Homo sapiens: one gene and its partners. The protein of the gene in region 1 purifies or fractionates together with the protein of each later gene. This does not show direct contact. Each region holds a gene or a part of one and is shown in the gene's direction. Other genes may lie near its edges. The genes, in order: EPB41L5, SETD1A and HECTD1.

Evidence for each region.
Region 2: the proteins of EPB41L5 (region 1) and SETD1A purify together in Homo sapiens (co-immunoprecipitation; 3 studies listed by BioGRID and IntAct, with this or other methods). This does not show direct contact.
Region 3: the proteins of EPB41L5 (region 1) and HECTD1 purify together in Homo sapiens (co-immunoprecipitation; 3 studies listed by BioGRID and IntAct, with this or other methods). This does not show direct contact.

The regions. Positions count from the first base shown.
Region 1 is NC_000002.12:120,086,049-120,089,702, forward strand, and holds part of EPB41L5 (band 4.1-like protein 5), read left to right. Parts: intron 1-1,122; coding exon 1,123-1,192; intron 1,193-3,654. UniProt on the Homo sapiens protein: Plays a role in the formation and organization of tight junctions during the establishment of polarity in epithelial cells.
Region 2 is NC_000016.10:30,971,218-30,974,871, forward strand, and holds part of SETD1A (histone-lysine N-methyltransferase SETD1A), read left to right. Parts: intron 1-160; coding exon 161-502; intron 503-3,654. UniProt on the Homo sapiens protein: Histone methyltransferase that catalyzes methyl group transfer from S-adenosyl-L-methionine to the epsilon-amino group of 'Lys-4' of histone H3 (H3K4) via a non-processive mechanism.
Region 3 is NC_000014.9:31,099,756-31,103,409, reverse strand, and holds the end of HECTD1 (E3 ubiquitin-protein ligase HECTD1), read left to right. Parts: intron 1-343; coding exon 344-494; intron 495-2,085; coding exon 2,086-2,230; intron 2,231-2,342; coding exon 2,343-2,480; 3' UTR 2,481-3,293; downstream 3,294-3,654. UniProt on the Homo sapiens protein: E3 ubiquitin-protein ligase which accepts ubiquitin from an E2 ubiquitin-conjugating enzyme in the form of a thioester and then directly transfers the ubiquitin to targeted substrates.

The DNA.
Region 1 (3,654 bases):
AGCCAGGCATAGCATGGTGGCACGCACCTGTAATCCCAGCTACTCTGGAGGCTGAGGCAGGAGAATTGCTTGAACCTGGGAGGTGGAGGTTGTAGTGAGCCAAGATCACGCCACTGCACTCCAGCCTTTGTGACAGAGTGAGATTCTGTTTCCTTTCTTTTTCCTGCTATTATTTCTTCATTATTGTTTTAGTAAAGCTCTTGTAAAGTTATGTTTTACATCTATTTTATATGTTATATTTAAAGATTAGTCAATCGGAGTGTCACATTGTTTCGACATTCACAATTTATGGAAATACAGAGTTCAAATGTGTGGTAGGTGGTTTGGAATTTACAAGTAGGGAGATACAGTTGGAAAGCGGGCCATAAAGCGAGGTTAAAAAAATTAAGAAGTATTTCCTCTACCCAAAATTCCTGTTGAAAACAGAGTTGAGGCTGGTTGCAGTGGCTCACGTCTGAATTCCAACACTTTGGGAGACCAGGGTATGCGGATCACTTGAGCCCAGGAATTTGAGACCAGCCTGGGCAACGTAGCGAGATGCCGTCTCTACAAAGAATACAAAAATTAGCCTGGTGTGGTGTGGGAGTAAGGCTGAGGCAGGAGGATTACTGGAGCCTGGAAGTTCACGGCTGCAGTGAGCTGTGAACACACTACTGCAGTCCACCCTGTGTAATGGAGGGAGAACCTATCTCAAACAAACAAAAAGAGTTGAAAACCATCGTCAGTGTTTTTCTTTATGGCTGTTTTTTTTAAGCTTTATGGTCGTTCCTATGTCTAGTTCCTATGCTGCTGCTCTGCTTTAACACTGGAACAATTTTCCCTAGACCTAAAGAATCTCTTACACCATAATCGAGACCTATCAAATACATAGATTTCATTTTCCTTAACATTTTTAATGTCTGATATGTGCAACCTCAATTTTGTCTGAGATTTGCTTTTGAAATATGTACTGTGTTTTTCTGTTTCCTGTCTTTTGATGGGCATTGCAAGTTACGTTTACCGTCCTGTCAATTTTTAGTTCAGGAGTTAGATGGTTAAATGTATTTGAAATAAAAACAATTTTTTTCATATTTAGAGAACATTTGTTTGTAATTTGGCTTTTATTCTCTTATTATATTATAGGCCGAAGATAACCAGATTGGATTTTAAGAAGAATAAATTAACCTTGGTGGTTGTAGAAGATGATGATCAGGTAGGAATAAAATTATATTCTATTACTTGTGTAACAGTGACTGTATTATGTGGTAACTTATTTCTCTAAAAGAGGGAATGTACCTCATTGTTTTAAAGAGCCACAGAATGCAAACAGTATAATTAATGCTTTAAATAATTTCCTTACTTGGGTCATACCATGCTAAAAATATGGTTTTCTGCCCTTAGGATGAAAAATAATATAAAAGTGTCTTCTTGTTTCCTCATTGATCGTATATCTGAGGTGTATAAAAAATTACATTTAAGTGAGCCAGCCAGTCACCCAGGCTGGAGGGCAGTGGCACTGTCATAGCTCACTGTAACCTTCACCTTCTGGGCTCAAGTGATCCTCCTGCTCACTCAGCCTCCTGAGTAGCTGGGACTGCAGGCACATGCCACCACCACGCCTGGCTGATTTTTTCATTTATTTGTAGAGATGGGATCTCAGTATGTTGCCAAGGTTGCTCTCAAACTCTTGGCCTTAAGTAATCCTCCCATCTTAGCTTCTCAGCATGTTGAGATTACAGGAGTAAACCATTGTGGCAGACCAACTTTATCTCTTTATTAACTGATCAAAAAGATCTACCTAATAATAATAAAGCCTTTTGAATTAAAGATTACCTTTGTATCAGTTACAGTGTGGTTCTTAATTGATACATGCTTGGATGCAACTCACATGCATTGTTCTTAATGCAAGAAGCCAGATTTAAAAAATTATGTATTGAATGACTCCATTTATCTGATACTTTAGAAAAGGCAAGAAGAATTTTACTTTATGCAAATTAATAAATTTTAACATATGCATACAGATACAGATAAAAGCAGTTTGAGCAAAATGTTAACAGTTGTTGAGTCTAGACACTATGTATATGGGTATTCAGTTTTTCTGTATGTTTAAACATTTTTATAACGATGAAAATTTTTTTTTTGAATCCAGTTCTTTCATTTTCCTCTGCTCAGTAATTTGACTGCTATACTTTTCCTGTTTTAAACACACAATGGGATACTATGCAGCCATAAAAAAGAATGAGATCTTTTTTGCGGGACCATGGATGGAGCTGGAGGATATTATCCTTAGCAAAGTAATGCAAGAAGAGAAAACCAAATACTACATGCTCTTACTTACAAGTGGGAGCTAAATGATAAGAACTTATGAACACAAAGAAGGCAACAGCGGACACTGGGATCTACTTGAGTGGGGAGGGTGGGAAGAGGGAGAAGAGTAGAAAAGATAACTAACTGAAAGATAACTGGACTTAATACCTGGGTGATGAAATAACATGTGCAATAAACCACCATGACACGTGTTTACCTATGTAACAAACCTTCTCTTGTACCCCAAACCCAAAATAAAAGTTAAAAAATAAAAAAGAGTGCTGCTCTGAACACTAAGGTGTATGTATATTTAGCTTTTGTAGGTACTGCCAAACCTCTTTCCAAAGTATTTAATACGAGTTTATACTCCCACCAGCAATGTTATTGGTGTTTTTTTTCTTTTTTGCTAATGTTTGGAATTCTGTCTTTTTCATTGTAGCCATTCTTGTGGAGTAGAATGTGGTTTTAGTTTGTGTTCCCCTAATGACAACTCTGGTTTAGTACTTATCTGTGTAGTTATTGGATATGTGGATATCTTCTTTATGAAATGCCTACTCAAATCTTTTGCTTATTTTTCTATTAGGTCATGTGCCTTTTAGTCATTGAAAAAATTCTTTGTATGTTCTGGATATTAATTCTCTGTCAGATATTAGTGTTGCAAGTATCGTCTACTCCTTGTTTTGCCCTTTTTCCACCACTTTTATTTTTAGATGACATATAATAATTGTACATATTTATTGCATACAGAGTGATATTTTGATACATGTATACAATGTGTAATTATCAAATCAGGGTAATTAGCGTATCCATCTTTACTGTCTTAATAGTGTCTTTAAATAACCTGAAAAGTACCAAAAATTATAAAATAGATAACCATCTTATTAATGATCTAGATTTAACATTTTTTACATTTTGCTTCAGTTCTCTTTTAGAGAAAGATAAATACAATTATGTGCATGAATAAATAATACCAACTAAAGTCTAACCCCCTGACTACCTACCCCCTTTCTTCTGGTACCTGGTCACCAATTTTGGAGGGTATTATTCTCATATATATTTTGTAACTTTTTCCAAATATTAACTCATGTTAGAATTGTTTTAAAAACTTGCATAATTATATATATTTGCAGCTTGCCTGTTTTATCTAAACGTGTACCTATGTAGATCTAACATATATATATGCTATTGTGTAATATGAATAAACAATAGCACATTCATTCATTCATCATTTATTCATTTATCCCTCTGCATAATTTTTTACATATGCCTCTATTTACTTGACCATTTCTCTTTTTTTGGACGTTTAGGGTTTGTACCAAGTTTTACTATTATAAATGAGACTGAGGAAATATACATCTTCATATATAA
Region 2 (3,654 bases), on another chromosome or scaffold:
CTCACAGTGAAAATGGTTTGCTTATGCAGCTCCTTGGTCTGTTGGACTTCCCCGTCCCTAGCCCAGAGCCCAGCATCCACAGCAGGGAGTGAGTGAGGAGCCCACGGCTGGCCAAGTGAGGTCTGCCCACCTCTCCTGACTGCCCCTTCTGGATTTCCAGGCGAGGACGAGGAAAGCGATTCGTCTTCCAAATGTTCTCTGTATGCTGACTCAGATGGCGAAAATGACAGCACATCAGACTCCGAGAGCAGCAGCTCTTCCAGCTCCTCATCCTCCTCCTCCTCCTCGTCCTCATCCTCCTCGTCCTCTTCATCCTCTGAGTCCTCCTCTGAAGATGAAGAGGAAGAGGAGCGGCCAGCAGCCCTTCCCTCAGCCTCCCCGCCCCCCAGAGAAGTCCCAGTGCCCACGCCAGCACCTGTGGAGGTGCCAGTGCCGGAAAGGGTTGCAGGCTCCCCAGTCACACCCCTGCCCGAACAGGAGGCGTCTCCAGCAAGGCCTGCAGGTAGGTGCCACAGGGCTGTCGGTTAGATCGCTGTGTGTGTGAGAGAGAGAGAGAAAACAGTGGTGCTTGCATTTATTGTGTACAAGTGTGTGACTTTATTAGAAAAACATACAAAGAAAATGTCACCATCTCCTGTCACTACCTTCTAGAGACATTGATTGTCTGACACACTTCAAACTGTACCGTCATGGTGGTTTACAGAACCCCAGGCTAAGCTGCATACTAAAGTAAAATGGGTTGGTCTCTTCTCAAGTAAATTAAGGAGAAAGTGCCCAGTTGAATAAGTTCTTCCTCCTAATTTTTCTTAAGCCTGTTCTTCAGTGAGTAGTGAACAAGTGCAGGTTATTAAATGGGCAAATAGGTAGAAAACAAGTATTAACATAACACAGAACTTGGTCCTAGCTGCTTTTCTTTGTTCATTTGTACGTCTAGTTGTTATACTCTAGCACATTCGCATAGCTTAGCCTGCTGAGGGAACCGCTCTTTCAAGCAGTAGATATTTTTTTGAGTGCTCATCGCAGCCAAACAGTAGGTGCAGGGGATGGGTTGCTGAGCCTCACAGGCAGTGTTCTCACTCTCATCATGCTTACAGTCTACAGGGAAAGACATCTTCATTGAGTAAGAAATACATAGGAGGCCGGGCGCGGTGGCTTACGCCTGTAATCCCAGCACTTTGGGAGGCCAAGGCGGGTGGATCATGAGGTCAGGAGATCGAGACCATCCTGGCTAACATGGTTGAAACCCCATCTCTACTAAAAAATACAAAAAATTAGCCAGGTATGGTGACAGGCACCTGTAGTGCCAGCTACTCAGGAGGCTGAGGCAGGAGAATGGCGTGAACCCAGGAGGCAGAGGCTTGCAGTGAGCCGAGATCGCACCACTACACTCCAGCCTGGGCGACAGAGCGAGACTCTGTCTCAAAAAAAAAAAAAAAGACCAGCCTGGGCAACATGATGAAACCCTGTCTCTACAAAAATTACAAAAACTAGCTAGGCGTGGTGGCGCACACCTGTGATCCCAGCTGCTCGGGAGGCTGAGGTGGGAGGATCACTTGAGCCCAGGAGGCAGAGGTTGTAGTGAGCCAAGATCACACCACTGCACTCCAGCCTGGGTGGCAGAGCGAGACCCTGTCTCAAAAAAAAAAAAAGAGAGAATACCTAGGAAAACCTGTGGTTACGAACCATGAGAAGCACCAGGAAGAGGCACAGGGCAGCCAGCCGGAGCACATCTGCAGGAGGAGGAAGGCTTCCTGCTGAGGTACTGCTGGGCTGAAGTCTGGGCAAAGCAGGCAGCACGGCTGGCTTAGCGTGTGCAAAGGCCCTCCAGCAGGGGAAGCAGCGGGTTGGAAGACTGGAAGAAAGCCGACCCTTCAGAGGGTTGAGCACAAGGGGGCACTGGGGTGGCTGAAACTGGAGAAGTGAGTGAGAGTTGGGCCCAGCAGACAAATAGGCCAGCCATGTCAGGAATTTGGCCTTTATTTTGAAGTAGAAACCCATCAGAGGAATGACATGGTCAGATGTATGTTTCGAAAAAATGCAGTGCAGAGAAAGCTTGGAAAGGGGCCACAGTGGATGTAGGGCGCTTCTTAAGTGGCTATTGTAGAATGTAAGGCGAATTATGGTGATAGCTTGGACTTAGGGTGTTGCAAGGATAGATCAAATAAGTCAGTGTTCAAGATGTGCTATGAGCTTTAGGAGGCCGAGGCGGGCAGATCACTTGAGGTCAGGAGTTCGAGACCGGCCTGATCAACATGGCGAAACCCCATCTCTACCAGAAAATACAAAAATTAGCCAGATGTGGTGTTGTGTACCTGTAGTCCCAGCTACTTGGGAGATCGAGGCACGAGAATCGCTTGAACCCGGGAGGTGGATGTTGCAGTGAGCAGAGATCATGCCACTGCATTCCAGCCTGGGCAACAGAGTGAGACTCCATCTCAAAAATCAGATGTGCTGTGAAGATGTGCATGGCCTCCCGGGGTCTCCCAGTTGCACGTTGTTGAGAATCCGTGGTCTGAGATAGGCAGTGCCCACAGGAAGACCTCCTCACCCTGGTGCACTCTACTAAGCTCCAGACCCCATGAGAGGGGAGTTGAGGCGCTCATTACACCTCAGATGACTCTCCAACCTCTTCTGGGCCCATTGGGTAGCAGAAGGGCCTGTGGGGTCACCGGCAGGTCAGAAGGCATGGATCTTAGTCCTCTTCCATTCTCATCAGAGCAGGAAGGAGAGGGGCCTGACCATATCTGCATTTCAGAAAGCCCATTCTAGCAGGAGGAGGAGAGATTTGGAAGAGAGGAGCAAGGAGGTGGGTGACATGAGGAGGTTTGAAAGGATGCAGGTGAGATTTAATGGCATGAACCAAAGCCGAGCGGTTCTAATGTGGCAGAAGAGTGGAGTGGAAATGGGGGTGAGGATTGGAGGGAAATTTAGGAGGTAGGATGATTTGGTTAAACTTCCCCAGGAAAAGAAACTTGGGAAGAAAACCAGGATTAGGAAGAAAACTGATGAGTGTAGTTGAGGTTGCATTTGAGGTGCCCCTTGGGCTTCCCAGTAGAAACAGTGGCAGTTGGATCCATGGATCTGGGGTCTGGAAAGAACGGTAGGCTGGATATGAGGTCGGTGCTTAGGTCTTGAAAGTGTAGCAGTGAATTCACCTATAGACCCAGGTAGGCGAGTGGGGGGAGAGAAAGGGCAGAGCCTTCCCATCCTGTGAGAGCAGTGGGCAAGCAGGGCCCGAGGAGGCTGAGAGCGGTGACCAGAGGCGAGAAGGGAAGCAGGTAGTGGAGAGGCTCTGCAAAGCAGGGAGTGGCCTTGTATCACCAGGCCACCAGCAAGGCTGAGATAGGAAGTATCTGTTGCATTTGACAGTTAGGAGGTCATTGGTGACCTTATCAATTTCAGTTGAGTGGTTCAGACTGAAGCCAAGTTACAGGGTGTTAAGGAATGAGGGGAGGGCAGTTTTCTGGAAGGGTGGACCACTCTTGCTGAGATAGAAAGGAGAGTTGGGGCCGGGCGCAGTGGCTCACACCTGTAATCCCAGCACTTTGGGAGGCTGAGGTGGGCAGATCACTTGACGTCAGGAGTTCGAGACCAGTCTAGCCAACATGGTGAAACCCCATCTTAACTAAAAATACAAAAATTAGGCTGGGTGCG
Region 3 (3,654 bases), on another chromosome or scaffold:
CCACCACGCCCGGCTAATTTTTTGTATATTTAGTAGAGACGGGGTTTCACTGTGTTAGCCAGGATGGTCTCAATCTCCTGACCTCATGATCTGCCTGCCTCGGCCTCCCAAAGTGCTGGGATTACAGGCGTGAGCCACCGTGCCCAGCCCATTCTTTTTTATGGTTGCATAGTATTCCATTGTGTACATATACCACATTTTCTTTACACATTCATCCCTTGATAGATACTTAGATTGATTCTGATAATGGGTATTTTGGTTTGAAATTTGGTATTTTGGAATCGTAACTTGGAAACTGAGTTGTATGTTTGTTTTTTGTGTTTCCGTTACATGTACGATGTAGATGGGTTTAATAAAGTTTTTCCAATGGAGAAATTAAGTTCCTTCAGCCATGAAGAAGTCCAAATGATTCTTTGTGGAAACCAGTCACCATCCTGGGCAGCAGAGGATATTATCAATTACACTGAACCTAAGCTGGGTTATACACGTGACAGGTATGTGATACTATTTTCCAAGATCAACAAAATTATTTATATTCCCCAAATCAAATGACAGATTCTCTAAAGAACTTTAATTCAGTGAGTATCATAAAGTAAGTGAGAAAGCAGTGGTGTCTCACAGTTACCAGAATGCATATCCACTGATAAGGCTGGGAGGATACAAAAAGACAACTGACAGCAGGCCGGGCGCGGTGGCTCACACCTGTAATCCCAGCACTTTGGGAGGCTAAGGCGGGCGGATCACTTGAGGTCAGGAGTTTGAGACCAGCCTGGCCAACACGGTGAAACCTCGTTTCTACTAAAAATACAAAAATTACCTGGGCGTGGTGGCAGACGCCTGTAATCCCAGCTACTTGGGAGGCTGAGACAGGAGAATCACTTGAACCCAAGAGGTGGAGGTTGCAGTGAGCCAAGATCATGCCATTGCACTCCAGCCTGGGCAACAAGAGTGAAACTCTGTCTCAAAAAAAAAAAAAAAAAAAAGACAACTGACATCATGGCTGATGTTGATTCCTTTCCTCATTGTGTTTTAATTGTTCATTTTTAAAATTTGGTAAATTGTAAGCTGTTGGGCTATATACTACGTTTATATTAAACTTTTTATTGAATATAACAGATAAGTACACACATCATATATACAGTTTAGAGGATTTTGTCAAAATGAACACACCTGTATAATTGGTATCCAGAATATGAAACAACTTCAAAAATCCCCCTTCCCACCATATTCTTTTCTATTAATCTAATCACCATATGTTGATCAGTTTTGCTTGCTTTTGAACTTTTAATATATGAAATCATGTAGTCTGTTTTCTTTGTGGTCTGGTTTGAGTAATATTATGATTATGAAATTTATCCATGTTGTGGCATGTCGTTCATTTACTATTTCATTACATAAATTTATCACAAGATAATTATTTTGCTGGAATAAAAATTATTTCAGATCCCCTTTGGTATATTTATCCATATTTGAAATGATTTTGCAAGTGCATCCTGTGTTTTTATGATTTGCTGACTTTGTTGCAGAATAGATGGACCCCATACACTGTCAGTATTTTTTAGTTCTTACAATTTGTAAGTTCAAGACAGTCTTTGAGGGATTTTTATTTTTATTTTTGAGATGGAGTTTCGCTCTTATTGTCCAGGCTGGAATGCAATGGCACAATCTCAGCTCACTGAAACCTCTATCTCCCAGGTTCAAGCGATTCTCCTGCCTTAGCCTCCCAAGTAGCTGGGATTACAGGCGTGCGCCACCACGCCCAGCTAATTTTGTATTTTTAGTAGAGATGGGGTTTCACCATGTTTGTCAGGCTGCTGTTGAACTCTTGACCTCAGATGATCCACCCGCCTCAGCCTCCCAAGGTGCTGGGATTACAGGTATGAGCCACCACACCTGGCCCGGGATATTTTTAAAGTAGCTTATATTAGCCCATTTCATACTTAACCAAGAGTCTCTAGATGTGTTGTTGTTCTGGTGTGAGGATATTGTTTTTTAGGGGGCTTGTTGCTGCCTTAGAAAATAGTGGTAGTGATTTTCATTTAAATCTGCAGTCAACTCAATATAACTATATTTTTGTTCTTTTAGCCCTGGTTTCCTGAGGTTTGTGAGGGTTTTATGTGGCATGTCTTCTGATGAAAGGAAAGCATTCTTGCAGTTTACCACTGGTTGTTCAACTCTACCCCCAGGTGGACTGGCTAACCTGCATCCCAGGCTCACGGTTGTACGCAAGGTACAAGCTCTCTGGCTAATGGGGAATCCAAATGAAATTTAGTTACTTTACTTTTGAAAGAAAGAAGTATTTAAACTCATGGTCTTCTGTTGTGTTTGCTTTCTTGTTGTAGGTTGATGCTACTGATGCAAGCTATCCATCAGTCAATACATGTGTGCATTACCTTAAGTTGCCTGAATATTCTTCCGAGGAGATCATGAGAGAGCGCCTGCTAGCTGCTACAATGGAGAAAGGCTTTCATCTCAATTGAGCTTTGAAGTGCAATGGGAGACATCAGAGACTTTAAAAATACTAGTGAAGCCTCTTGTGTTTGTGTGCAGAGAAGTATATGATCCACCATGCTAATGACACTTGCCTTTTTTTCCACCATTAAGGCTTTAAGAACATGTGGAATAAGTTTTTTAGCTGCTAATGACAAAACAAATCCTGTAACTACCCAGCCAGCAAGTATATAGCACAGAACACTGTGTTACTTTACAAGGGCTTATGTGACTGGAATAAGGTGGTCCCACTTGACTGTTCCAAAGAGCAGCTTCTCAGATCTTCAGTGTTCACTGGTAAATTTCTAACAGTGTATTTGTGTAAAGTTTGTCATTTCATACTCCATACACTACAGTTGCTGTCACTGATCCCTGTTTTGCTGGCTTTTAAGCTACTTGGTCAAAAATCCTGCTTCCTTAAAACATAGAGAATTAATGAGCATCTCAAGCTTTTTCTTTTCCTTTTTAATGATGCCTGCACTATCAAGAGTATTCTAGTGTTCTCTCTTTGTTTGGCATATAATCATGCACCAAACTTTTTATTTCTTTAAGGTGGGAGTATATTTTTATTTCCTAAATGCCATACTATGAAGATCAAAGTCTTAAGTGTGTTTGCAGCTCAAAAATAAAGATGTATTAAGGGGGGAAAACCTGGTCTAAGTGCAAGGCACACTTACAGCGAGTTTTACTTTCGGTTGTATTTTCTTTGTATATTATAAACATTTATTTAACTTGTTGCCGTTTGAAGTAAAAAATTTCCAAAATGTATGCTCAACAATAATCATTAAAATGTTTGCAGCGTACAGAACTGTGTCATGTGACTATTTCAATGCAGTCATCAGACTTAAGAGCTTTAGCAGGTACTTGTCATTTTGAATCATCCAAAGTTTTCTGAAATTACTACATAAAGAAATGTGTTTTTCTATAGTAAATACGGGTATTAAAATTGAAAGGCTAGAAGAAATATATATTCACACACTTGTGATCCAATGGTTGGGTTCAGTTTTAAAGTATGCCTCAGCTAGAACTGACCAGTTACTTGTGTTATTTTTTTAAAAAAACACCAGATCCACAACTTAACTATTGTATCTATAAGGATATATAAGTAAGGATGTAAGTGAGATCCAAGAATGATTTTTAAATGTTGTGTGTCAAAACACGGGG